7 linked regions of the Homo sapiens genome follow. The protein of the gene in region 1 interacts with the protein of each later gene in a biochemical or structural test. Each region holds a gene or a part of one and is shown in the gene's direction. Other genes may lie near its edges. The genes, in order: RBX1, UBE2D4, CUL4B, DDB2, FBXO45, UBE2G2 and UBE2F.

Region 1 (3,500 bases):
GCAGTGGCACGATCTCGGCTTACTGCAGTCTCCACCTTCTGGGTTCAAACAATTCTCCTGCCTCAGCTTCCCGAGTAGCTGGGATTACAGGTACCCGCCACCACACCTGGCTAATTTTTTGTATTTTTAGTAGAAATGGGGTTTCACTATGTTGGCCAGGCTGGTCTCGAGCTCCTGACCTCATGATCACCCATCTCGGCCCCCAAAGTGCTGGGATTACAGGTGTGAGCCACCGCATCTAGCTGCTAATTTTTTAATTTTTTGTAGAGATTGGGTCTTGCTGTGTTGTCCAGGCTTGTCTTGAACTCCTGGACTCAAGCAATCCTCCTGCCTTGCCCTTCCAAAACACTGAGCTTACAGGTGTGAGCCACTGCCCCTGGCCACACACTTTTATTATAGACACTGAGGAGAAGTCTGAGTGCCATAACTTAAAAAAAAAAAAAGGATTTATATGGGAAAAGAACTTAGCAAGTAAAGAAAAAAATGGATTTATCATTTTTATAAAGACAATTTTTGTTAAAGATGAAAGTAAGAATCTAGATTTAGCAACGGTTGTATTTTAATAAATCTTGTCTGACCTTAAATGAGTAATTATATACATAGCTCTAAGTAAATAAGAATGATTATGGCTGTGCCCTAGTCGGATTCTGAAGACTTCCTCTTTTAAGTCCATATTGATTCTGCATGCCCTCCTGTACCTTTGTATTTATTTTATTTTACACTGTCTCCTTCCTTGGTTGTATTAAGGAGTTGCTGAAAAATCAAATATGTGAGGTTTTATTTTCTCTATTACCTCTGGTAATCTTATTCCTGATGATGGGGAATCTTCATCATCTTAGACCCAGCCTTGGCCCAGAAGATGTTAGCATCTACCTAAAACTACAGATCCATCAGTATTTTGGTTTGGTTTGGTTTGGTTTGGTTTGGTTTGGTTTGGTTTGGTTTGGTTTGTTTGAGACAGAGTCTTGCTCTGTTGCCTCGGCTGGAGTGCAGTGGCATGATCTCGGTGCACTGCAACCTCTGCCTCCCAGGTTCAAGCTATTCTCCTGCCTCAGCCTCCTGAGCAGCTGAGACTGCAGGTATGCACCAGCATGCCCAGCTAATTTTTGTATTTTTAGTAGAAACAGGGTTTCACCATGTTGGCCAGTCTGGTCTCTTTAACTCCTGACCTCGAGTGATCCACCCGGCTCGGCCTCCCAAAGTGCTGGGATTACAGGCGTGAGCCACCACGCCCGGCCCCGTCAGTGTTTTGAAAGTGTAATCTGTCTACTCTTGAGATGAAGCCATTGCTTCCTTAACAGTTCTTTGGTGGTACAGCGTTTTTATCAAAGCTTAAAGGTCCCCAAGCTTTATAAATCACATGATAGGCTTCTGCCTTGGCAGGGGTGTGACATGAACCCGTTATGTGCCACTGTCAACCTGTTCTGGGTTGACAGTGAACAGTTCCTGCCCGTTTAAACTAACTGGACTCAACCCCTGTACTTACTCTCTGCAACAAAAGCTGGAAAACTTTTGTATTGAGCACATTTTACACTAATATTTAATCATTTTCCCTGCTATATCCCTTCTTATTTGGTACTCTAGATTGCAGTAATATCCCTCCTATACATTTTTGTTCTTTGTTAGGAATTTTGTAGTAAAGAATGAATCTGGCCGGGCTCGGTGGCTCACGCCTATAATCCCAGTACTTTGGGAGGCCAGGACGCGTGGATCGTGTGAGGCCAGAAGTGCAAGACCAGCCTGGGCAACGTGGGGAAACCCCATCTCTACTAAAAATACAAAAAATAGCCAGGCATGGTGGCGCATGCCTGTAGTCCCAGCTACTTGGGAGGCTGAGGCGGGAGAATCACTTGAACCTGGGAGACAGAGGTTGCAGTGAGCCAAGATTGCACCAGTGCCCTCCGGCCTGGGGGGACAAAGCTAGACTCTGTCTAAAAGAAAAAAAGGAATGAATCTTGGTCGGATGCAGTGGCTCACGCCTGTAATCTCAGCACCATGGGAGGCCGAGGCAGGCAGATCACTTGAGGTCAGGAGTTAAAGACCAGCCTGGCCAACATGGTGAAACCCCGTCTCTACTAAAAATACAAAAAATTAGCTTGGTATGGTAGTGCACACCTGTAATCCCTGCTACTTGGGAGGCTGAGGTGAGAGAATAGCTGGAACCCGGGAGGTGGAGGTTGCAGTGTGGAGATTGTGCCACTGCCCTTCAGCCTGGGCAACAGAGCGAGACTGTCTAAAAAAAAAAGAATGAATCTGTATTTGTCCCGTATTTCTTCTATTTATAGAAATAGTTTTTGTTTGCTTGTTCAAGTACCAAGAGCCTAATTTGCACTTGGCATAGAAAGACCAGGTCCCTGCTCTGTGGGAGCTTTGAGTTGAGGGGGAAGGAGGGAGGTCAGGTATGTAAAGAGATACTCATAATTGATGTGTTAAGAGTGCCTGAAGGAGAGGAAAATGACTCAGGGTGGAAGAGTCAGGAAAAGCTTCAGTCAAGAAGTAGGGATTTAAGCTGGGTCTTGAAGGGTGGGGAGGACTTGAGAGTGATAGGAGGAGGAGCATGTTCCAGGTATGGCAGGGACGAAGGAAAGGACTCTACCGTGAAGGGAGCCTGAAGGGTTCTTTAGGTTAGTAGTGCCATGGCCACAGTCAAAAGAAAGACCCAGATCAAATTTAAACACGATAATGTACCTTGAAACAGTTTTGATTTTCACTTTAATAATTGTGGCTCTTATTTAGCTAATTTTATAATACATAGTCTTCCTCTAAGTTAGAGGATCCAGCTTAAAGGACATCATATTTACTTTTCTCTGCCATTCTTTTAATTATAGTAGTGTATTCCAGTTTCAATAAGTTCTTAAATACACTGCATAGACCCTAGATCCCTTTTTTGTTTGTTTTTAAGATGGAGTCTCGCTCTTTCACCCAGGGTAGAGTGCAGTGGCGCGATCCCAGCTCACTGCAACCTCTGCCTGCCAGGTTCCAGCGATTCTCCTGCCTCAGCCTCTCTAGTAGCTGGGATTATAGGCATGCGCCACCCACCACACCCGGTTAATTGTTTGTATTTTTAGAAGAGACAGAGTTTCGCCATGTTGGCCAGGCTGGTCTCGAACTCCTGACCTCAGATGATCTGCCTGCCTCGACTTCCCAAAGTGCTGGGATTACAGACATGAGCCACCACGCCCGGCCGAGCCACCGTGCCTGGCCTTTTTTTTTTTTTTTTTTTTTTTGATAACAAGGTTTTGCTCTGTCACCTAGGCTGGAGTGCAGTGGTACGATCATGGTGCACTGCAGCCTCAACCGCCTGTGCTCAAGCCATTCTCCTGCCTCAGCCTCCTTAGTAGCTGGGACCACAGGCATGTGCTACCACAACTGGCTAATTTTTTTATTTCTAGAGATGAGATGTTGCTGTGTTGCCCAGCCTGGTCTTGAATTCGTGGGCTAAAGTGATCCTGCTGCCTTGGCCTCCCAAAGTGCTGGGATTACAGGTGTGAGCGACTGTG
Region 2 (3,500 bases), on another chromosome or scaffold:
TGTAATAGTAATTACTATATAAACTTAATCTACTTAATCCTTTACAATTAATAAAATATTTATATATTTAATGATTTGGTAATAAATTCCCATGGTTCAAAATGTGCACAGGATATACAGGGAAAAGTCTCCCACCCAAGACTGTCCCTAGCCATCCAGTTCCCCTCCTGGGTGGGCAACCAGTGTCGAAGTATTCTTCTAGAAATATATATATTCTACTTATTCCTCTCCCTTTTTATAATACTAATTGTAGCATTCTCTATACCACTATTATCTTGATATTTACTGGGTGCTCTTGCTTACATTATATACATTAAAAACTTACATGCAAAATTTGTAGCCACACAATAGTACCGGCAAGTTGGCAGGCAAGTATGATTACAACTTAACAGGTAATTACACTGAGGCCCAAAGAGGTGAAAGTGATTTCCTCAGTGACGGAGCTTGGATTCAGACCTGAGTCTTCTAACCCTGAGGTGAGCACAGGAATTCGATGTGTGAGTGGACTAGTTTCTTTCAAGTCACACCATTCTTCCTTGAAATGCCAGTTAGTATTCGAAACTCCTGGGTGCTGGTTGGAGTCTAACAATAGGGATCCACACGTGGCCTTTCAGGGATCATTAAGTGCTGGTGTAACTGTTCATCACACCTCTAAAGGGGGAACATGGATTCTGCATATAGGCAGTGCAAAAGCATAGAGGTGTGGGAAAACCTTGTGAGGTGGAGGGGAATTGGTCTGTACTGCTGGCTTTTCCTGCCCCTGGCTGTTCATATAACCTCTTCAGGATTTGCCTTAGCAGTTCTGTCATAGGGCTAATTTATCCATGCAGTGTAGCAATGAATATAAACAATTCTCCTGCACAGTGATAGTGGAGGTGCTGAGGGGCACATAGCAGAGAGGTAAGCTAAAAGGAACTGTTCCACAGAGATTTCTGTAGCTCTTGCATTTCTGAGCCTGTCCTTGGTCCCCTTGTATGACCTCACTTGTTCCCCAAGTTAAATTCTCTTTTGGCCACTCCTAATGCTGCTTCCTGAGTGCTTGCCAAGTATAATTCATTTTACTTATGAGGAAATGGGTTCAGATATATTAGATACTAATCGAGAATTGGCCAGTGGTATACTGGTAGATGTTTAAAGATCAACCCTCGGGGAGAAAACATGGCCCTGATTTGTAGCATTTGCTGGCTTCTGTGATGTTAATACTTCCATCTTGGCTGATTAAATTTGAAGTGAAGGGGATAAATGCAGGATGGCCAGAGATGTGGTTACTGAAATGATCAGCATGTCCAGAGACATATGGTGAAATCAGGAGAGTTTGTGTAGATAGGACAGTGTTTGGCTTAGTTCAGGGTTGGTGTCCCATAAAGGGAATCTAGTCGTGGTATAATCCCTGATCCCCACTGGTGCAGTGTTAAACTTTGGCTCACGTGCCAGTCTCCACATTCAGAGCCCTAGGACTTGCCACATAACCAGTGGTGACTAGGGTGATTGGGATGGTGGTTGGGGAGGTAAAGTAGAGAGATTAGCACTTCCTTGGTGCTGCTTCCATGCATTAATTCATTAGCCTAGCAGTAAAACCTGGCACCTATCCTTCTCCCAGAACTCTCTCCTGGGCTGCTTTTCTTCCATATCTTCAGCACCTGGGGGCCTGGGGATGTCCTCTACCTGAGGAGGTAGGAGGCTAGGCTTGGGGGTAAGGCAGAGCTACATGTGACTGACTTCTTGCCCTGCCCTCTTCCAGCTCTGTACCTTGAGTAGGTAACTTCATCACTTTACAATTCAATTTCCTAATGTATAAAATGGAAATGATCATACCTACTTCTCTGGTATCTTTGTAGCAGGGAGTAGAGTCCTATGACCCACCATGTCTCTAACCCCCTCCTGAGGCCTAGGAGCCTCCTCCCACCAGGAGAATTCCTTCCAGCTACCAAGATTGGTATGTAGAGGCAGCATCCCCAGCATACAGCAGCTCTGACCCACTCTCTCATGTTCTAGGAATTAACCGACTTGCAGAGGGATCCTCCTGCCCAGTGTTCTGCAGGACCTGTCGGTGATGACTGTAAGTATTTTGGGGGGCTTCAAGTTGTAGGAGCATTTTAATTAAGACCCCCCAACTTAGGCCAGGTGCGGTGGCTCACGCCTGTAATCCCAACACTTTGGGAAGCCAAGGTGGGTGGATCACCTGAGGTCAGGAGTTTGAAACTAGCCTGGCTAACATGGCGAAACCCCGTCTCTACTAAAAGTACAAAAATTAGCCGGGCATGCTGGCACATGCCTGTAATCCCAGCTACTTGGGAGGCTGAGGCAGGAGAATCGCTTGAACCCAGGAGGCAGAGGTTGCAGTGAGCCAAGATCGTGCCACTGCACTCCAGCCTGGGCAACAGACTCTGTCTGAAAAACAAACAAACACAAACAAAACCAAACAACCAAATTATCAGCCAAGCAGTATTTAAGAAAACCAATCAATGCTTTTCCCTTCATTTTCTCTTGAATGGCTTTTCATTTGAGGTCTAGGCCATGAGTTCACAGCAGCTTGGCTGGTCAGCTTATACTCAAAGTAGAACCTGCACTGCCTCTCATGTCCCATAGTCACCGCTTCCCTCTTCTGGCGCATGAGAAAGCCAGCTTGGCCTGAGGAGTCACATCAGCTGCTGGAAAGTGCCCTTGGCCAAGTCAAACTTGGGTGCTGGTGTAAATATTGTTGGAGTTGGTCTAGAGGACCTGGTGCTGCTGCAGCTCCTGGGAGCAGAGCAGGACAGTGGAGGAGGGGCAGGGCAGGGTAGGGCAGTGGCCACTTGCCTCTGCCAAGGGGAAGGGCAGTCCCTATTATTTTCTCCCACTTCCACTCTTCCCTGGCGGAGACTGAAGCAGCAGCTCTGGGCAGCTTCTTGGGAGAGAGAGGGAGAAGCAGCACTGCCTGTTCCAGGCCTCTGCTGTCCCTCACAGGTGCTGGCCGAGGCTGAGCTGCCCAGCACTAGGGTTTCCAGGTCTGTCCTCTGCCCACTCACCTTGCCTCCACTTTGTGGGCTTCTTGGGCTCTGGGACACCAATCCTTCCCTGTGAGGCTTCAGTAACTGCAGCCATAGGAAAATAGGTGGGGAGGGGAGATACTATGTGTTCAAGGAGAGTGGTGTCAGAGGTACATATACCAAAGAATCAAAAACAGAGTGAGACAGAATGTGTATGCCAATGTTCACGGCACCATTACTCATGATTTTCAGAAGCTGGTAACAACCCAAGTGCCCATCAGTGGATGACAGATAAACAAAATATGGTTCTGATACACATTACAACATGAAAACATCCCAAGTGAAATAAGCCGGAAAGAAAAGAATGAATATATGATTCCACTTACATGAAATATCTAGACTAGGCAAATTCATAGAGACAGACGGTAGATGAGAGATTACCTGAGGCTGATGGGGGGTGGAAATAGGAGAAATATTGTTTCATGGATACAGAATTTGTTGGGGGTGATGGAAAGCTTTAGAAATGGATGG
Region 3 (3,303 bases), on another chromosome or scaffold:
AAATGAAGCAGTGTAATTAATGGAAATAGTTGAGTGGACTTTTTCTCAGTGGTTAACATGCCCATTTTAAAGAGTAATACTTACCTTTAAGAAGAATGTTGTTGAACTCTTTGCATGTTATTTAGTATGATGTGCAGAAAACACTTAAGAACGTACCTGGTCTTCATGAATTCCTCTTTGGAACTGGGAAAGAGATCCCTGTGGCTATTAAAAAGGGGGGAGGGTTCTTACACACCATTAATTATGAAGCAAAAGGTTTATTTGCTTAAAATGTCATTTAAAGATACTTAAACTGCATGCAAACTTTATTTACTGTACAGAGTTCTGGATGTATTTATCAAATAGAAAAACCACCCTTGACTTGGTTGTTCACCCGTTTTGTGATTTCCCTTGAAAAGAGAAATGAATTGTCATAGCTATTGATATTTTACTAGGTGATGTTCTGTTACACTGAAAGGGATGTTTTTTAAAAAAAATTATTTGGAAACAAGTTTTCAAGTAGGGGGACAGTTGCTTACATAATATCTTGTATATTCACATCCTAAAAATTTTCATTTATGAGTATGGGATGTGTGTATATGGCTTAGCCCCAAGTTAACTGTGCTGATTAACAAGTACTTATAAAAATAGCTAAAGTAGAAAATTAATGATCAGTTGTACTAGAGGAACATCATAGAAGAGAAAAATCCAACTCTTTATATTAAAAATGAATACAATAAGAAAATTGCAAAAGAGACCAAAATGAACGTGTTTTGTAAATTGTTACAGGAGCAAAAACTTTGCAACTAGTTTTCAACATACTTTAGACTTTAAATGTTGTTTGGACAGTTTTGTCTTCAACTTGGACCAATTGTAGATTGTTACAGGCTTCCTAGGATTTAGCATTCCTATTTTCTCTACCAAAGTTTTTTTTAGAAGCATCCCAACTCTTCTCTTTGTTGATAAATAAGCCTTTCCTGTCATCTTCATTTTAACTTGCTAAAACCCTAGATACAAAGGTCCTCCCTCATTTTTCCCACAGAGCCCCTGTTTGGGAATTTGAGATTCTGTGTCATGCTGGTTTTCCTTTCAGAATTGCTTGAAATCGAGTTCTCTTAGCCACTGGACACCTAGTTTTCAGGAGAATGTCCCAAGATTGTTTATATATACAAAATGGCAAAAGTACTGTTTTTCGAATTGATAATTCAAGCAAAGGCTTCTCTTTACTGTCACTGATTTTTTTTTGTTTTTATTTTGTTTCCTTGTTTCTATTTCCTTGAAGCTTTGAAGGGAGGAGAAGCAGAAAATTTTGTTTATGTTTGTTAAAAATCAGAACTACTTAATGCTTTTTGCCACAGCATATTTCCTTGCCTGTTGGAGCCGTTAGGAAGATTACCTATGTCCTAATCTTCAACCTGAGAAGATTTTTGACTCTTGTGTCTACTGTTGATTGTTTGCTTGAGTTCTCAAAGACCTGTGGCCAGGTATTTTAAAAAGTCGTCTATTTCTTTCTAGTTGCATCAACTTGCACACTGGTGTCTAACTATATGTGGTATTCGGAACTTGTAATTCTTATTGAGCAGCCATTGCCTATATTTTCTCAGCTCCTCACTGATTTCTTTATATGAGCTCAGCTGACAAGCAAATGCAGCTATTTTGTTTACCCTCTCTTCATACCGGACCATCAACAACAGTGTTCTAACTCATCCCTGATGGTCTGTGAGATGTAGACTATTACACAAGATTCAAGTTACTCGTAAGCAACTTTTAGATAGAGTTGGTCCTGTTAGGAGGAGACTCTTGATGTCACCTTCAGTATCTTGAAAGCGGGTCCCCTCCCCGAGGCTCTTAATTCTTTGAAAACTTGATGCTGTTTCAGCTGAAAAATTAGCAAGACTGTTAAAAAAAAAAAGTTGAGGGGAGCTGTTTAAGAAACTGAAAAGTAATTGCAAACTACATTGGATAATTGTGACTTTCAGTTGTTGTTCTGTATCAGTTGAATTTTTGTGCTCTTTTCCCTGTGTACGTGGTGGTTCTATTTTTCTCCAATAAAACTTTTATTTAAAAAAAGTTTCTAGAGAAGATCTTTAAAATTCAAGTATTGTAAGAAAGTTATAAAATCACAGGACTTAAAATCTTCCTAACAACTTCTAATGAACTCACATTTGTTGATTTTGTTATTTTTAAACTTTTTAAAAATTTTGTAATGGTTTTGTGGTAATGCTATAAGAGTATGGGGGAGGGCATGGTTAACAGGGTGAGGAAAATTCCCAGGAATCCTCAAGGTGGATAATTATTCTTAAACATGCGGATACAAGTATAAACATTGCTTCATTCAAATCCTCAGTGTCAAATTGTTTCATAAAGTCAATATGAAATGAGTCTAGATTTGAGTTCAGGGGAGAAGAAAAGATTACTCTTAGTTATGGCATTTGCTCTGCCTTTTCTGTTAATAGTTTTTTGAGTTCTGGGCCAGATACTCTCAGAGTAAGATGTTCCTCAAAGTTTTTGAACCCAGTTCCTGAGTCTGCTTGAATGGTCTTAATATGATGTCTAGCCATACTCTTGAAATTTTTGCTGTGTATGTGAGTGTACAGTTCAGAAAACCAGTTTATCTGGGCATCTGGATCTAAAGATTTGAGAAGTTTGTTTTTTAATCTGGATATTCATAAATCTTTTAAAATGAGCTGGTCTTTGTTTTCATGACCACTCTGTTTAATGCTGTGAATGGCAGGAGTGTTGTGAGCGTGTTCTATTCTCTTATTTACATAAAATTGCCAAAACAAATTGTTCATTAAAAAGAAAAGAGCAGTACTGATGAAAATTTGCATAATTATGCTTTGTAAAATGATATCTTGCTAATGCTTCATTAATGAATATTTTTCAGTGTCCTACAAAAAAACACCTGCTTTACATTTGAATACTGAAGTTTGTTCACCTGCAAACACTTGGTTGAAATCAAACACTTTGCTCAATTATTTTCCTTTTTCCCCTTGCTATTATAAAAAAGGGTATTTCTTCTTTTGAATGGACACATAATGTACCTTTATGTTTAACAATCCTTAGAAGTCATCTCTAGCATAGTGAAAAAGACTCTGACCTTTCTTTTGTAAAACCGTTTCTATTGGATGTAAAATATAAGAATGTGCTGCACTGGCATGTTAGAACTTAATAGTTTTGCCAGCTATAACAACAACAGATCCTCTTCATTTGTTCTCTAATTTCAAAACTTTTCTTTAATTTTTAAATTTTTTATTGTGGTAAAGTACACACAAAATTTACCATTCTAACCATGATAAAGTATACAATTCTGACATTTAGTAC
Region 4 (3,500 bases), on another chromosome or scaffold:
TGCCCACAGTGGGGAAGGGCTGATGTGGTAAGCCTGCCACCCCAGATCGCTCCTGGCCCGAGCACAGAGCATCTCTTACCCATTGGCTCTCTCTCTTCCTTTTATCCCACTTCTGCCATCCCATATGGTTGAGTTTTCTGTCTCGCTGATAAGATATTTTTCTGAGTTTTTTCAGCCCAGCTCTGATCTCACTGTGAGAATTTTCTAAGATCCTGACCCTCTGTTCTGTCTTCTCAGCTTCAGTTACCTGTGTACAGTTGACCCACAAACCTTCATTTTTTATTTTTTTATTATTTTTTTTAAGGCAGGGTCTCGCTCTGTCACCCAGGTGGGAGTACAGTGGGGCAAGCATGGTTCATTACAGCCTTGATCTCCCAGGCTCAAGCGATCCTCCTGCCTCACTTTTTTTTTTTTTGTAGAGACAGGGTATTCTTGTGTTACCCAGGCTGATCCTTTTTTTTTTTTTTTTTTTTTTTCTTGAAACGGTCTTGCTCTGTCACCCAGGCTGGAGTGCAGTGGCACAAACATAGCTCACTGCAGCCTCAACCTCCTGGGTTCAAGCAATCCTTCCGCCTTAGCCTCGGAAGTAGATTGGACTACAGGTATGCGCCACCATACCCAGCTAATTTTTTTATTTTTTATAGAGATGGGGTTTTGCCATGTTGCCCAAGCTGGTCTTGAACTCCTAGGTTGAAGCCATCCCCCAACCTTGGCCTCCCAAAGTGCTAGGATTACAGGCATGAGCCACTGCGCCTGGCAACTTTGCCTTCTTAGTTTGTCTTGCAGGTTTCAGTGCTTCTAATAATAAAAATAAGTCTTTTATTTTCCCACCTTTTCTCAGGCTCTTGTTAATAGCTTCTCTATCATTAGTCCCCAACACTAATAGCTTTCAAGTCCTTTGATGCCTTTTTGCCTAAGCCCCCATGCAGACTGAGCTCTGCTAGTTCTGCATTCTTTTCCAAAACTACAGATCCTCTTCAGATCTTCAGGTTTTATGCCTATACTTCTCTGGTCAGTTCAGAATAGTGGTGGGGAGCGCCAGTTTCCAGCAGCCAGACCCCCCGGGTTAGAATCCTTGGGCAAATTACTTATATTTTGGATCTGTTTCCTCATCTGCAAAAAGGGAATACTAGTCTCTAACTGATAGGGTTGTTGTGAAGATGAGTCAGTATACTTAAAGCACTTGGCCCCATGCCCAGCACCTGGTAAGTACTGGTAAGTATTCAATAAATGATGATTGAATATTGAGTGGCCCCCACGTACCTCAATCACATCCAAGCTCTTAATAAATAATGTCAAGAATCCTTCCCCAGTTGGTGTTCCTGTTAATCCATCAGTGTTCCCGATAATCCATCTGTCTGCATGTCCCAGTTTGTATCTAGCCAGGTGTCGTAAGTCATTACAGCTTCCTGTGTGTGATTTGTGACTTATTTCTAAGCCTTCGCATGTACTATTTCTTCCTTCCTGCTAACCATGTCTTTCTTCCTTCAAAACTTCCTTGAGAAGTTTAGGAAAATCCCATCCAATTCTGCCATTTTAATAACTGCCAGATTTGTTTTTAGTGGGGTGATCTGGGGAATGTGGGTTTCCTTCTCTTTTTTAGCCATTAGCAATTTTACACTCAGCTCTTAGTTATTCGTGTTGATGGAGACAGGATGACAGTGGGGCTCCTCCAGAACTCAAGTCCTGTTAGGGTTTGGTCACCAGAGGCTTTTTCTGCTTTGTTGTAGGCCTCTTAGGTCAGTATCTGGGTCAGGCTGATGTTAAAACGTTTACCAGTTGGTATGATCTTAGGAAATGCAAATGAGGGAGAAGGCCTGAAGGTGCCCTAAGGGCCAGGGAGGCCAGCTAGGGATTAAAAATGTGCAATGGCAGAGGCACACACAACCTAAAACCATTCTTGTAGTTTTCTGTAAGACTTATCTCCATTATTAGGTTGGCTTGTTACTGGCAAATACTACTTTTTTTTTTTTTTTTTTGAGAGTCTTGCTCTGTCACCTAGGCTGGAGTGCAGTGACATGATCTTCACTCACTGCAACCTCCGCCTCCCGGGTTCAAGTGATTCCCCTGCCTCAGCCTCCCAAGTAGCTGGGACTACAGGCATGTACCACCACGCCCAGCTAATTTTTTTTTTGGTATTTTTAGTAGGGACGGGGTTTCACCATGTTAGCCAGGATGGTCTCGATCTCCTGACCTCGTGATCCGCCTGCCTCAGCCTCCCAAAGTGTTGAGATTACAGGTGTGAGCCACTGCACTCAGCCCAAAGAATACTTTTGATGTTCCTCTTTGTTCATATTTGTTTTTGATGTCCCCCTTGATCATGTTCTGTGTTTACCCTCATGGCCGGCCTCTCCATCTCCTAGGCAGCCTGGCATCCTCGCTACAACCTCATTGTTGTGGGCCGATACCCAGATCCTAATTTCAAAAGTTGTACCCCTTATGAATTGAGGACGATCGACGTGTTCGATGGAAACTCAGGGAAGATGATGTGTCAGCTCTATGACCCAGAATCTTCTGGCATCAGTTCGGTGAGGCTTGGGTCCTCAAATAATGATGGGAGGAAGCAGGGATTCAACCTACCTTATTGACCAAAAGTGACCAGAAATCAGGTGTCTCTGCTAATACCTTCACCCTCTCCTCATGTTGACACTCTTGTCTCTGCAGCTTAATGAATTCAATCCCATGGGGGACACGCTGGCCTCTGCAATGGGTGAGTAGGAGGAGAATGTCTCTGACTTGCCAAGTCCGATCCTACTTCCCAAGGTTCAGTGCGGGCCAGCCTCAGCCCCGCCCTGCCACATTCACCCCAGGGCAGTGGCCCACGAAGAAGATGGCTGGGAGACAGTGGTCTCTATAGCCAAGGCCCTCCATTCCTCTGGCTTTGTCTTGGTCATGCAATGCCTGGCTACTGTCCAGTTTCCTAGTATTTCTTTTTTTTTTTTGAGACGGAGTCTCGCTCTGTCCCCCCGGGCTGGAGTGCAGTGGCGTGATCTTGGCTCAATGCAAGCTCCGCCTCCTGGGTTCACGCCATTCTCCTGCCTCAACCTCTCGAGTAGCTAGGACTACAGGTGCCCGCTACCACGCCCAGCTAATTTTTTGTATTTTTAGTAGAGACAGGGTTTCACCGTGTTAGCCAGGATGGTCTCGGTCTCCTGACCTCGTGATCCGCCCACCTCAGCCTCCCAAAGTGCTGGGATTACAGACTTGAGCCACCGCGCCCGGCCTTCCTAGTATTTCTTTACCAAATTGTAGGTTTGCGGGCCAGCCCCAGGCTCTGAGAGATTGGTAACAGAAAGTGTAAGTCAGACTGGTCTCACTCTTCCTAGGTTACCACATTCTCATCTGGAGCCAGGAGGAAGCCAGGACACGGAAGTGAGAGACACTAAAGAAGGTGTGGGCCAGACAAGGCCTTGGAGCCCACACATGGGATCAAGTCCTGCAAGCAGAGGTGGCGATTTGTTAAAGGGCCAAAAGTATCCAAGGTTAGGGTTGGAGCAGGG
Region 5 (3,500 bases), on another chromosome or scaffold:
TGTGCGTGCTGTGTGCTCAAAGGTGAAGCAGATTTGCAGATTTCACCAGGAGTAATCGTTACTTAGTTTCAACTTCTGTAAAATAGGGATAGTTCCTAGGATTAGTGTGAGGATTAAATGGGATAATACAAATACGACACAACACAAATACCCAACAAAATTAGCTTTTCATTTCTACTTTGTTAATATTTTGTTGGTAGGAGTGGTGGTGATGATGATTTGGAGGTTCTTAGATCCATAAAATGAGGTGTGGGTTAATCTGTGAGGTGGGCAAAGGGAGGAAAAAAGCAGATGTTGGCAGTTACTGTTAACAGGAAATACAGTGAAGGAAAGTAAATGACAATAGTAGGGGTTATAATCAGGTAGAATTAAATTTTGATTGCAAACATTAGGACTTTCTGTTTCCAATTTTGTAGATGCAACATCTTTTTATAAAGGCAAACTAAAAAGATGAAACATCCTTTTTTTTTTTTTGCTTACTTTTCCAAATGGGAAAAAACTGGATATATTCTGCTTCCAGTTTCGTTTAATAATCAGTGCTGCTGTTTTTTATAACAAACAGGTGTTTCAGAGTTGTGAACCACAAATTGTTTAATAAGCCTATTCTATATTCTACATTAGAATTTGTAGCCAGATTGGATTATTCATGATTCCACATTACATGTGGAACTGCTTTGTAAACTTTAAAAGCTGTGTGTCTTACTAAGGTGATTTTTAAAATTGTGGTGAAACATACATATTTATTATTTTAACCATTTGTAAGTATACAATTCAGTGGCATTAAATACATTCACACACCTCTCTCTATACCCAAAACTTTTTCCTCACCCCAACATAATCTCTATTATGTTCATTCCCTATTTCCTTCACTCCCCACCCCTGGTAAACTCTGCTCTACAACTATATATATTTGAGTATTCTAGATACTTTATATAGGTGGAATCATACCATTTAGCCTTTTGTGTCTGGCTCATTTCACTTAGCATAATATTTTCAGGGTCTATCTATGTTGTAGCATATATCAAAATTTCATTTCTGTTTATGGCTGAATAATATTCCATTGTACGGCCGGGCGCGATGGCTCATGCCTGTAATCCCAGCACTTTGGGAGGCTGAGGCAGGTGGATCACGAGGTCAGGAGATGGAGACCATCCTGGCTAACACGGTGAAACCCGTCTCTACTAAAAATACAAAAAATTAGCCGGGCGTGGTGGCGGGCACCTGTAGTCCCAGCTACTGGGGAGGCTGAGGCAGGAGAATGGCATGAACCCGGGAGGCGGAGCTTGCAGTGAGCTGAGATTGCACCACTGCACTCCAGCCTGGGCGACAGAGCAAGACTCCGTCTCAAAAAAAAAAAAAAAAAAAGTTCCGTTGTATGTATAGTATAGTAATTTGAGAAGCTGATTTAGATTGCTCTTTTTGGTAAAATATGCCAAGTTATAGATTTTAGTGTTAACCTTAAGAAAAACCTTTAAACAAAGAGTAAATAAAATCAATCTAGGTAGTGTTCAGGTGGAACATTTAAATTGTAAGTAATTAAGTGTAGATTCCATGTGAGTCTTAAAAACAAAACTATCAAAGTAAGCATTTGTGATGTGTTACCTAGGCTGGAGTGCAGTGGGCAGTGGTGCGATACCAGCTTTGCGCCACCACACCCAGCTAATTTTTGTATTTTTAATAGAGATGGGTTTTCACCATGTTGCCCAGGCTGGTCTTGAACTCCTGGGCTCAAGCAATCCGCCCGCCTCAGCCTCCCAAAGTGCTGGGATTATAGGCATGAGCCACTATGCCCGGCCAGATGTATGTCCTTTTTTTATAGATGTTTCTTCCTGACTAGAAAGCTTCCCTTCTGATTTTTCTAGATAGCTTTCAGGATAATATTCTTAATATTTTCAACTTCTTGATTTGTGTCTTGTTTCTTCTAGCTACACCCTTGGCAGATTTTCTTCTAACCTTTTGATATCTGTTTGCAGATAGGAGAAAGAATTCGAGTCATCTTGGACATGGAAGATAAGACTTTAGCTTTTGAACGTGGATATGAGTTCCTGGGGGTTGCTTTTAGAGGACTTCCAAAGGTCTGCTTATACCCAGCAGTTTCTGCTGTATATGGCAACACAGAAGTGACTTTGGTTTACCTTGGAAAACCTTTGGACGGATGACAGTGGCTTTCTTGTGATGACAGACAGAATGGAGGAGAGATCTGCTTATGGGAAGTAGAACCATGAAGTGACTGTCACACATGCATGTCCAAGAAACATCCTGAAAACACATGAAGTCGTAAACTGGAGAAGCAGCTCTACAGCAGAGATTATCTTCGTGTTTCCTCTTTCTACTGGGCCAGAAAAATCCTCAGGGTTGCAGTTGGTTGAGTGGGCAGTTGACATATGCATGTTGCACCCGATGTTGTCTCTAAGTTAGCAATGTGTTATTTCCAGCTTTAAAGGTGAGATTGTAGAGATGCTGTCAAAGGGATAAGGAAATAGCAAGATTTTTAAGTAGTGTGTTTGTGAAGACTGATCCCATTTTACAACTGCCTGTTCTTTCTCCAGTCCTTTTTTTTCCAGCCAGCTTGACTATTAGAAAAGTATGAAACTGGTTGGGTTTTATTTAATATTTTTAATATATTGAGAAGCATGGTCTGCCTGGACTGCACTTCTCTAAAAGTGAGATATAAAATTGTGCAGCTATTTTAAAAGTTGTATATAATATGTGTGTAAAAAAAAAAAACTGTAAAAAAGAAAGGACAAACAGGTTGTTTTGTTCTAGTTCTAATTTCTTAAAAACCACTACATGGTTACAAAATTGGAATAACATTTGGGGACAACTGGGTTAACTACAAAGAAGAGGATTTTAAGAGGAGATGTGTTGTATTGACTCATTTTGTATTATTTTTGGCTTACAGTTCCCATAGCTGTTAGAGTCTGGTTTGTTTTTGTTTTTACTCTCAAAATCATAGTAAAGATCTCTCAGTCTCCTGGCTAAAGATTGAAGGAAGGCAAATCTATTTCTAATTATACATATATCAGTAAGGATGATCTCAACATAATAGTAATGTGTATCTTTTGGTATCCAGTTTTATTTTTGGCCTTCTAAGAAAGTGTCTCATAACACAGAACATTGCCATTTGCTCTTGTAGGCCTCAAATATGAAAGCTATTAGTCATAGAGCCTAGGAAAAAAAGAATTGATTAATGGTCCTTTTATTTTGTAACCTTATAAATGCTGTAGATATTATCAAAAAAATTTTAATTTCATATTGTTTACATCATGCAACTAATCTAAGCCTCAAACTCGTTATTGGGGCTATAAAGAAAACGTTTACTTACCCAGCTGAAACAGGTTAAGAATATTCTTAATCTCATTATAGATAATTGCCCCCATGGGACTTGAAATACAACACCTTGTGCTGAAAACTTCAGGTTGGCAATATTTGAAGGTTTCGTTGTAGAAGAGTTTAACATTAACTCCTATTTTGACTTACAAATCTTGTTTCTCATCACT
Region 6 (3,500 bases), on another chromosome or scaffold:
GAGACTCCGTCTCAAAAAAAAACAAAAAAAAAACAAAAAAACTTTGTGTAGTTGTTATCAGAACCGTTATTGTACTAGGTATTCACTTTGGGCAAACAGAATTTTCACTTGTTAATATGCATATTCTATGGTTTATAGGCTTATATATTTTGTAAAGGTGTTTTGTTAAAATGACAATGTAACATTTATTCTGTTTGGTAATGGTTTTACTTATTAATTTTATAGAATTAACACTGAATCCTCCGGAAGGAATTGTAGCAGGTAAGGTACCAAAGTTAACTTCCTTATAATTTACTTTTAATTGCCAAAGTTCCTTCAAAGTTAAAATGTTGTGAAATTTTTTCTCACCCTACAGGCCCCATGAATGAAGAGAACTTTTTTGAATGGGAGGCATTGATCATGTAAGTTAATTTTAGGTGTACTAGTTTTTAGGGCTTTGCTGGAAGTCAGATGTAAGAATCACATCAGCAGTGTGACTGTGTCCAAAAGCATCAGCTGGAAAAAAGACTGAGTTCTCCAGTAATGCCCAGCTCTCGTCTAGGCTGCTGGTCTGAAAGCAGAGAACCTGAGCATTGATCCAAAAGAAATGAGTGTTTCCTTAGAGCCAGTCAAAGGTTTAGTTATAATTATGTAATATATGTATTATATATTTGAGAGTTTTAAGGTGGTAATTTTGGAATGTTGTATGATCGTGGTTAAAATAACCTCAAATGGCGTAGGTGGCTTTGGCTTCCAGAAGTAGCCCCTTCAGGTGTGAAATTTTGACGAGAAAAGGGTCCTCAAAGATGTGTCTGACCACACCAGGCATGTTAGCGCAGCCTTGCCTGCCCTGCCTTTGGGCCAGGACTTCTTTTTCTTCTCCTTTCCTCCCAGTTCGTATCTTCGTGTGCTGCATCTCCTTTTTCTGTTGCCTTGTCTGGACTTGTTGGCCTTGTGTTCTTTCCGACCCAAGACATGGCTTAGTAAGTGAGCAGTGTGGTTCTGGGATTCGTGGCATTTAACTTAGGGTGACGTTGCTTGGAAAGAGAAACACATGGACCCCTGATTTTAGAGTGTTCTATGGCCTTGACTCACTTTGCTTTTTCTTCTTTCTACCTTAGATGTGCAATTTTTGGCCATTCTTAGTGTATTTTCAGCAAAGTGAGGTTAAATAAAATTTAGGAAGTTGAAATTTGTAATCAGTCTCTGTTTTCTTTCTTTTCTTTTTCTTTCTTTCTTTTTTTTTTTTGAGATGGAGTTTCGCCCTTGTTGCCCAGGCTGGAGTGCGGTGGCACAACCTTGGCTCACTGCAACTCCTGCCCCTTGGGTTCAAGCGATTCTCCTGCCTCAGCCTCCCTAGTAGCTGGGATTACAGGTACCCACCACCGTGCCTGGCTAATTTTTGTATTTTTAGTAGAGACAGGGTTTCCCCATGTTGGCCAGGCTGGTCTCGAACTTCTGACCTCAGGTGTTCCGCCTGCCTTGGCCTCCCAGAGTGCTGGGATAACAGGTGTGAGCCACCGCGCCAAGCCCAGTCTTTGTTATCTCATTAGTGAGGTCTTTTAATTTGCAGCAAGGTCTTGGGTTGGATTTTGTTGCATTGAGAAGTGCTCTAGAGGGCAAGGACCGGAAAAGTGAGGGCTGTGAAACAAGTGTGGGCTCTGGCTTGAAGTGATCTTAAGCTTCATGATGCTTTTGGAATTCGCCAGTTGCTTGGATCACATTAATTCTTAATGCTCTATGGGTTGGTCTGAGAAACAGATTGCAGCTAAGTGTTGTCTGTGGAGGTTAAATTGATATGAAAATTAGTATTTTGGATAAACAAAATGTTTTTAAAAAATCATCAAACGCTATTCAGATGGTACAGCACGCCTGCCATTTCCTGATCATTTGTAATATCCTAATTGCTTGGGCCTATGGCACATGTTTTTTCGGTGTCTGAAGGTTTCTGGAATCTGTGTTTGTGTGTAATGTGGCCCCCAAGGCAGTTATGAGATGGATGGCGAGTCCCACAGTCTGGGCTGTCCTCATTAGTGGACTGTGCGGCTGTATACTTGTATCGGGGCAGCTCTTTTTATTTCTGTAGAAGCAGGAGATCATATACATGAACTGATGTGTAACCTGCTTGTTTCATGTGTTAATGCAGGCGCACCTGCACTCATGCCAGCGGGGCAGCACGCCTGCTGCAGGGGCCCAGAGTGGCGGGAGGCCTGTCTGTGTGTAGAGGTTGAAGGCGCCTGTCGTGTCTGCAGTTATTTGTGGGGTGTTGGCTCCTCCGTAGGCCTATTTGGAAGCTCATTAAAGGAACAGTTGAGCCGTCCAGTGTGGTTTTAAAAAAATGTTCATTGTTAAAAATCGATTAGGGTAACTATTACCAATTTTAAATAAACAGTGTAAAATTAAACCAATATTTTGAAAACCTGTCTTAAAAAGTAATTAGAACTATTTTTAGGTAGAGCACTTCTGTGTTTGAACAAGGCTTTTTGCATTAGTTTGGAATTCCCCTGCTTGAAGATCCTAGTGAGTTTGTGGGTTTTGGTCCTGTTCCAGACCCTTCACAAACAAGAGGCCGTTTACAAGTGCACTTAAAATGCCTATTAGGGAATTAACTGTCCTCCCATCGATTTGTCTCACCCTGCTATTTTGGCAGACATCTGGCCAAGTCTTTGCTCCTTGGTGATAAGTTTCTTCTTTTTCTCTTTATTCTTTGATGGCTTCCAGGGCCGCCTCTCTACCCTAGTATTTCTAAAACCCGTGCTTGCCTCACAGAAGTCGAACGGCTGTTGGTTTTTGCTGTTGTGCTTGCCTTAAGGGCCAGTGAAGAAAATGTCATTTTAGATATCTAAGCAACAAACACTAAGTGCCTTTGATATGTTAGGGCCCTTGTCTGAAGATACAGACATGTCAAAGATGCACTGAAATCTTTACCTTGGAAGACCAGGGTTGAGGGATTAGGATGGAGAATAGAACAGATTAGTGAATGAGAGGACTAAATAATGAGAGTCCGCAGGCTGTGTCTTTAAACACCGGGAATAACTCTGCTGACCCTGCCACGCTCATGGTGGAGTCTGAGCCTGCAATCAAATCGAGCGTGGCTGGGATGGCGGCACACCAGGGGATGTGGCCACCGTGGCTGTGGGTGCTAGCATGGCCTGCTGCTCTTGGCCCAGTCACTTTGCCTCTCTTTGACTTATTTGGATCAAAACAGAGAGGTTTATCAGCATCTTCTAGACAGATGGTTACAGGTCTTGCCCAGCTCTAGGGTCCATGGCCCGTGACCCCATTGCCACTAAGCCACGGTGACGGGGGTGTAGCTGCAGAGAGGGTGGGTGCCCTCTTTCATTGATGCACTTATGTGGGACAGAAGGAGTCCTAGACAGCTGTTCATCCCCAGTGGCCGGACAAGGCGTGGAGTCCCTTGGCGCTTGCTGTCCTCTGTGTCCTGCCCCAGCATTCCCAAATCAGCTGGCTTGGTGACCTTCTTGTCTGGTTCATGCCTGACTGCTGTCACCTCCCCAGAC
Region 7 (3,500 bases), on another chromosome or scaffold:
TTGCCCATATTTAAATTGTGTAATTGATCAGTCTGAAACCATGACCACACTCGAGATAAAAACATTTCCTGCCCGGCATGGTGGCTCACGTCTGTAGTCCCAGCACTTTGGGAGGCTGAGGCAGGTGGATTGCTTCCGCTCAGGAATTCAAGACCAGCCCGGGTAACATGGTGAAACCCTGTCTCTACAAAAAAAATTAAAATTAGCTGGACATGATGGTGCCTGCCTGTAGTCCTAGCTGCTTTAGGAGGTGGAGGGTGCTGAGGTGGGAGGATCTCTTGAACCTGGGAGTTTGAGCCTGCACTGAGCTCAAGTCACGCCACTGCACTCCAGCCTGGGCTACAGAGCAAGACCTGTCTCAAAAAACAAACAAAAAACATTTTTGTCATCCACAAGAGGGAAACTAGTGTGTCTGTGGTGACAGCTTCTAGCAGCTGAGTGGCTTTGGGCAGCCTACCTTCTGGGCCTCTGTTGTCCTGGGGTCCACATGTTAAAATGGAATGGGAGTGAGAGAAGTCCATTCCAACTTTGCAATTCTGAGAGCTTATGACCGTGAAAGTGCAGAGCTGTCTTTGAAACCTTTAGACCAGTGCTTCTTAAGGGGTTTAGGGTATGTGTATGTCCGTGTCCTCTAGTGGAAAAGACTGTGCAGTTCAGAAGATCGTATTCTATGTATTGTTTTCGTTTTGAAAAAATTCTTTAAATTTTTTTATCTTTTGAGATGCGGTTTCACTCTTGTTGCCCAGGCTGGAGTGCAATGGCACAATCACTGCAACCTCCACCTCCCGGGTTCAACCTATTCTTCTGCCTCAGCCTCCTGAGTAGCTGGGATTTACAGGCACCCGCCACCATGCCGAGCTAATTTTTTTTGGTATTTTTAGTGGAGATGGGGTTTTGCCATGTTGGGCAGGCTGGTCTAGAACTCCTGACCTCAGGTGACCCACCTGCCTCGGCCTACCGAAGTGCTGGGATTATAGGCATGAGCCACCATGCCTGGCCTGTACTGTTTTCATGGTACAAACAATAGAAAATAAAATCTGACAGCATTTAGGGGATATGCAGAAGATGGTGTGAGAAACTGTGTAAGAGACCTGGGTGAAAAATGGTTTCAAATGCCAATGAGGAACGGAGTATTCTTATTTGACTTTCAGGATCTTAGCCTCAACCTAAAATTTCTGTGCTTAGGTCAAGCTTTTCACATGGAATTTTTAGATCATTTTCTGTTGAAACGATCAGAGTGGTATTGAAATAAAATGATACGAAAGCAACAAAGGAAATTATGGAAATATTGAACTGGTGACAATTTATTTTGTTTTATTTTATTTTATTTTTTTGAGTCTCACTCTGTTGCCAGGCTGGAGTGCAGTGGTGCAATCTTAGCTCACTGCAACCTCTGCCTCCCGGCTTCAAGTGATTCTCCTGCCTCAGCCTCCCAAGTAGCTGGGACTACAGGTGTGGGCCACCACGCCCGGCTAATTTTTTTGTATTTTAGTAGAGACGGGGTTTCACCATGTTGGCCAGGGTGGTCTCGGTCTCCTGGCCTCATAATCCACCTGTCTCGTTCCCCTAAAGTGTTGGGATTACAGGCATGAGCCACGGCACCTGGCCCTGGTGACAAATATTTGTCCTCAGTCAAAAGAAGTTCCAGTGACCCTCTCTGACCATGGCAAGGAGGACGATTAATGTCAGTTTATGTTAGAAACAGAAGGCAGAGTCTAGCGGATAGTTACTTTGTTACAATTAGTGGGATCATAATGTAAGCTGTGGACTTTGAGTTATAATGTGTTAATGTGGGTTCATTAATTGTAACAAATGTACCCTCTGGTGGGAGATGTTGGTAATAGGGGAAGGATGTGCATGTGTTGGGGCAGGGGGCGTATGGGAAATCTCTGTACCTTCCTGTTAATTTTACTGTATACTTAAAACTGCCATTAAAAAATAAAATCTTAAACAAATTGTGGCATTTCTTCAACCGTCTCCCAGATAGCAAGGGGCATCACCTGTGTTTGGTCTTTGTTGTCCCTACTAGTGAGCTTGCAGCAGGGGAACCTGCAACACAGATGGGGTGGAAGCCACCAATGAACATAATCTACTTTGGGACATTAATTTTAATTTAGTCTTGATGTTGAAATTGCCAAAAAATATAAATAAAACACAAATGTAAGTAAATGCAACACAGCATGAATAAATGAGAAGATGCTTATTAAGGCTCTATCCACACCTTTATTAAAAGAGGAAGGAGAGCAAAGAGTGGTGCTCCTCTTCCACCAGAGGCTGTGCTGCTTCAGTTGGTGATGGGCCAGAACCTGGGACCGTACCATGTGTGTGCATGATCCCCTGCAGCAGGGAAGGGCCAACTTACCAGTGGGCAGTAATGGACTCATGTGGAACCCATTGGTGAGGGCATGCTGGTTGAGAAACTGTGGAGGCCACCCTAGACCTTGTGTTCCACGGGAGCTTTGTCACAACCACATCCCAGGACCTGGCACCCAGTGAGTGTGAAATGCATGACTCTTTTTAATTTTAAATTTTTTTTTTTTTTTTTTTTTTTTTTTGAGACAGGGTCTTGCCGTGTCACACAGGCTGGAGTGCAGTGGCACAATCACGGCTCACGGTATCCCCAATCTCCCAGGCTCAAGGGATCCTCCTACCTCAGCTTCCCGAGTAGCTGAGACTACAGGCACACACCACCACTCCTGGCTAATTTTTTTATATTTTTTGTAGAGACAGGGTTTTGCCATGTTGCCCAGGCTGGTCTTGAGCTCTTAGGCTCAAGCAATCCTCCTACCTTGGCCTCCCAAAGTGCTGGGATTATAGTTGTGAGCCACCGTGCCCAGCCATGACTCTCTTTTTTAAAAAATGTTAATTCATAATTTTAAAAGTTAGGCTTATAGAGGATGGCATAGAGCTTCTCAAATGTATTATGAAGGAATCCAATCTTATTAATGTGTACAAATTTTTTCCATAACTAAATTGTGGGAAAAAATCAAAATACAAAAGCACTTATACATTTTTCTCAGTGTCTAATTAGTCTCTGGAGACCTGGTCCTTAACCCTGCTTTCATTGCTGTCTTTCAGGGTAAAGGCAGCAGTAATGCTAACGCTAGCAAGTAAACTGAAGCGTGACGATGGTCTCAAAGGGTCCCGGACGGCAGCCACAGCGTCCGACTCGACTCGGAGGGTTTCTGTGAGAGACAAATTGCTTGTTAAAGGTAATGATCATTCGTGTGAACTGTTTTTATATCCTATAACAAAAGGAAGTTTGACTGGAGAGTCTTTGGGGATATAAAGCAACCTACTGCTGAATAGAAATACCTGTTTAAAAGATTTTAAAATATAATTGCTTATCTCTTATAGTGAAGGACATTGTACCACGCAGGTGATATGAGCACACTGTTGCAAGGAGATGGTATTAGAAACTGCAGTGTGTCTTATACACTTGGGATGTTCTTTGTCACGTCTGCCAAAATGCTAGCAGAAAGAATAAGGTGCTGAGAGTC

The links.
Region 2: the proteins of RBX1 (region 1) and UBE2D4 form a complex in vitro, tested with the Homo sapiens proteins (2 studies listed by BioGRID).
Region 3: the proteins of RBX1 (region 1) and CUL4B form a complex in vitro, tested with the Homo sapiens proteins (4 studies listed by BioGRID, with this or other methods).
Region 4: the proteins of RBX1 (region 1) and DDB2 form a complex in vitro, tested with the Homo sapiens proteins (2 studies listed by BioGRID, with this or other methods).
Region 5: the proteins of RBX1 (region 1) and FBXO45 form a complex in vitro, tested with the Homo sapiens proteins (one study listed by BioGRID).
Region 6: the proteins of RBX1 (region 1) and UBE2G2 form a complex in vitro, tested with the Homo sapiens proteins (3 studies listed by BioGRID).
Region 7: the proteins of RBX1 (region 1) and UBE2F form a complex in vitro, tested with the Homo sapiens proteins (2 studies listed by BioGRID).

Annotation. Positions count from the first base shown.
Region 1 is NC_000022.11:40,957,878-40,961,377, forward strand, and holds part of RBX1 (E3 ubiquitin-protein ligase RBX1), read left to right. Parts: intron 1-3,500. UniProt on the Homo sapiens protein: E3 ubiquitin ligase component of multiple cullin-RING-based E3 ubiquitin-protein ligase (CRLs) complexes which mediate the ubiquitination and subsequent proteasomal degradation of target proteins, including proteins involved in cell cycle progression, signal transduction, transcription and transcription-coupled nucleotide excision repair.
Region 2 is NC_000007.14:43,936,436-43,939,935, forward strand, and holds part of UBE2D4 (ubiquitin-conjugating enzyme E2 D4), read left to right. Parts: intron 1-1,995; coding exon 1,996-2,059; intron 2,060-3,500. UniProt on the Homo sapiens protein: Accepts ubiquitin from the E1 complex and catalyzes its covalent attachment to other proteins. In vitro able to promote polyubiquitination using all 7 ubiquitin Lys residues, but may prefer 'Lys-11' and 'Lys-48'-linked polyubiquitination.
Region 3 is NC_000023.11:120,523,358-120,526,660, reverse strand, and holds the end of CUL4B (cullin-4B), read left to right. Parts: 3' UTR 1-2,803; downstream 2,804-3,303.
Region 4 is NC_000011.10:47,235,474-47,238,973, forward strand, and holds part of DDB2 (DNA damage-binding protein 2), read left to right. Parts: intron 1-2,363; coding exon 2,364-2,528; intron 2,529-2,664; coding exon 2,665-2,710; intron 2,711-3,326; coding exon 3,327-3,376; 3' UTR 3,377-3,500.
Region 5 is NC_000003.12:196,582,160-196,585,659, forward strand, and holds part of FBXO45 (F-box/SPRY domain-containing protein 1), read left to right. Parts: intron 1-1,973; coding exon 1,974-2,159; 3' UTR 2,160-3,500. UniProt on the Homo sapiens protein: Component of E3 ubiquitin ligase complex consisting of FBXO45, MYCBP2 and SKP1. Functions in substrate recognition but also plays an important role in assembly of the complex.
Region 6 is NC_000021.9:44,784,821-44,788,320, reverse strand, and holds part of UBE2G2 (ubiquitin-conjugating enzyme E2 G2), read left to right. Parts: intron 1-225; coding exon 226-261; intron 262-355; coding exon 356-401; intron 402-3,500. UniProt on the Homo sapiens protein: Accepts ubiquitin from the E1 complex and catalyzes its covalent attachment to other proteins. In vitro catalyzes 'Lys-48'-linked polyubiquitination. Involved in endoplasmic reticulum-associated degradation (ERAD).
Region 7 is NC_000002.12:237,970,014-237,973,513, forward strand, and holds part of UBE2F (NEDD8-conjugating enzyme UBE2F), read left to right. Parts: intron 1-3,078; 5' UTR 3,079-3,094; coding exon 3,095-3,212; intron 3,213-3,500. UniProt on the Homo sapiens protein: Accepts the ubiquitin-like protein NEDD8 from the UBA3-NAE1 E1 complex and catalyzes its covalent attachment to other proteins. Together with the E3 ubiquitin ligase RNF7/RBX2, specifically neddylates cullin-5 (CUL5).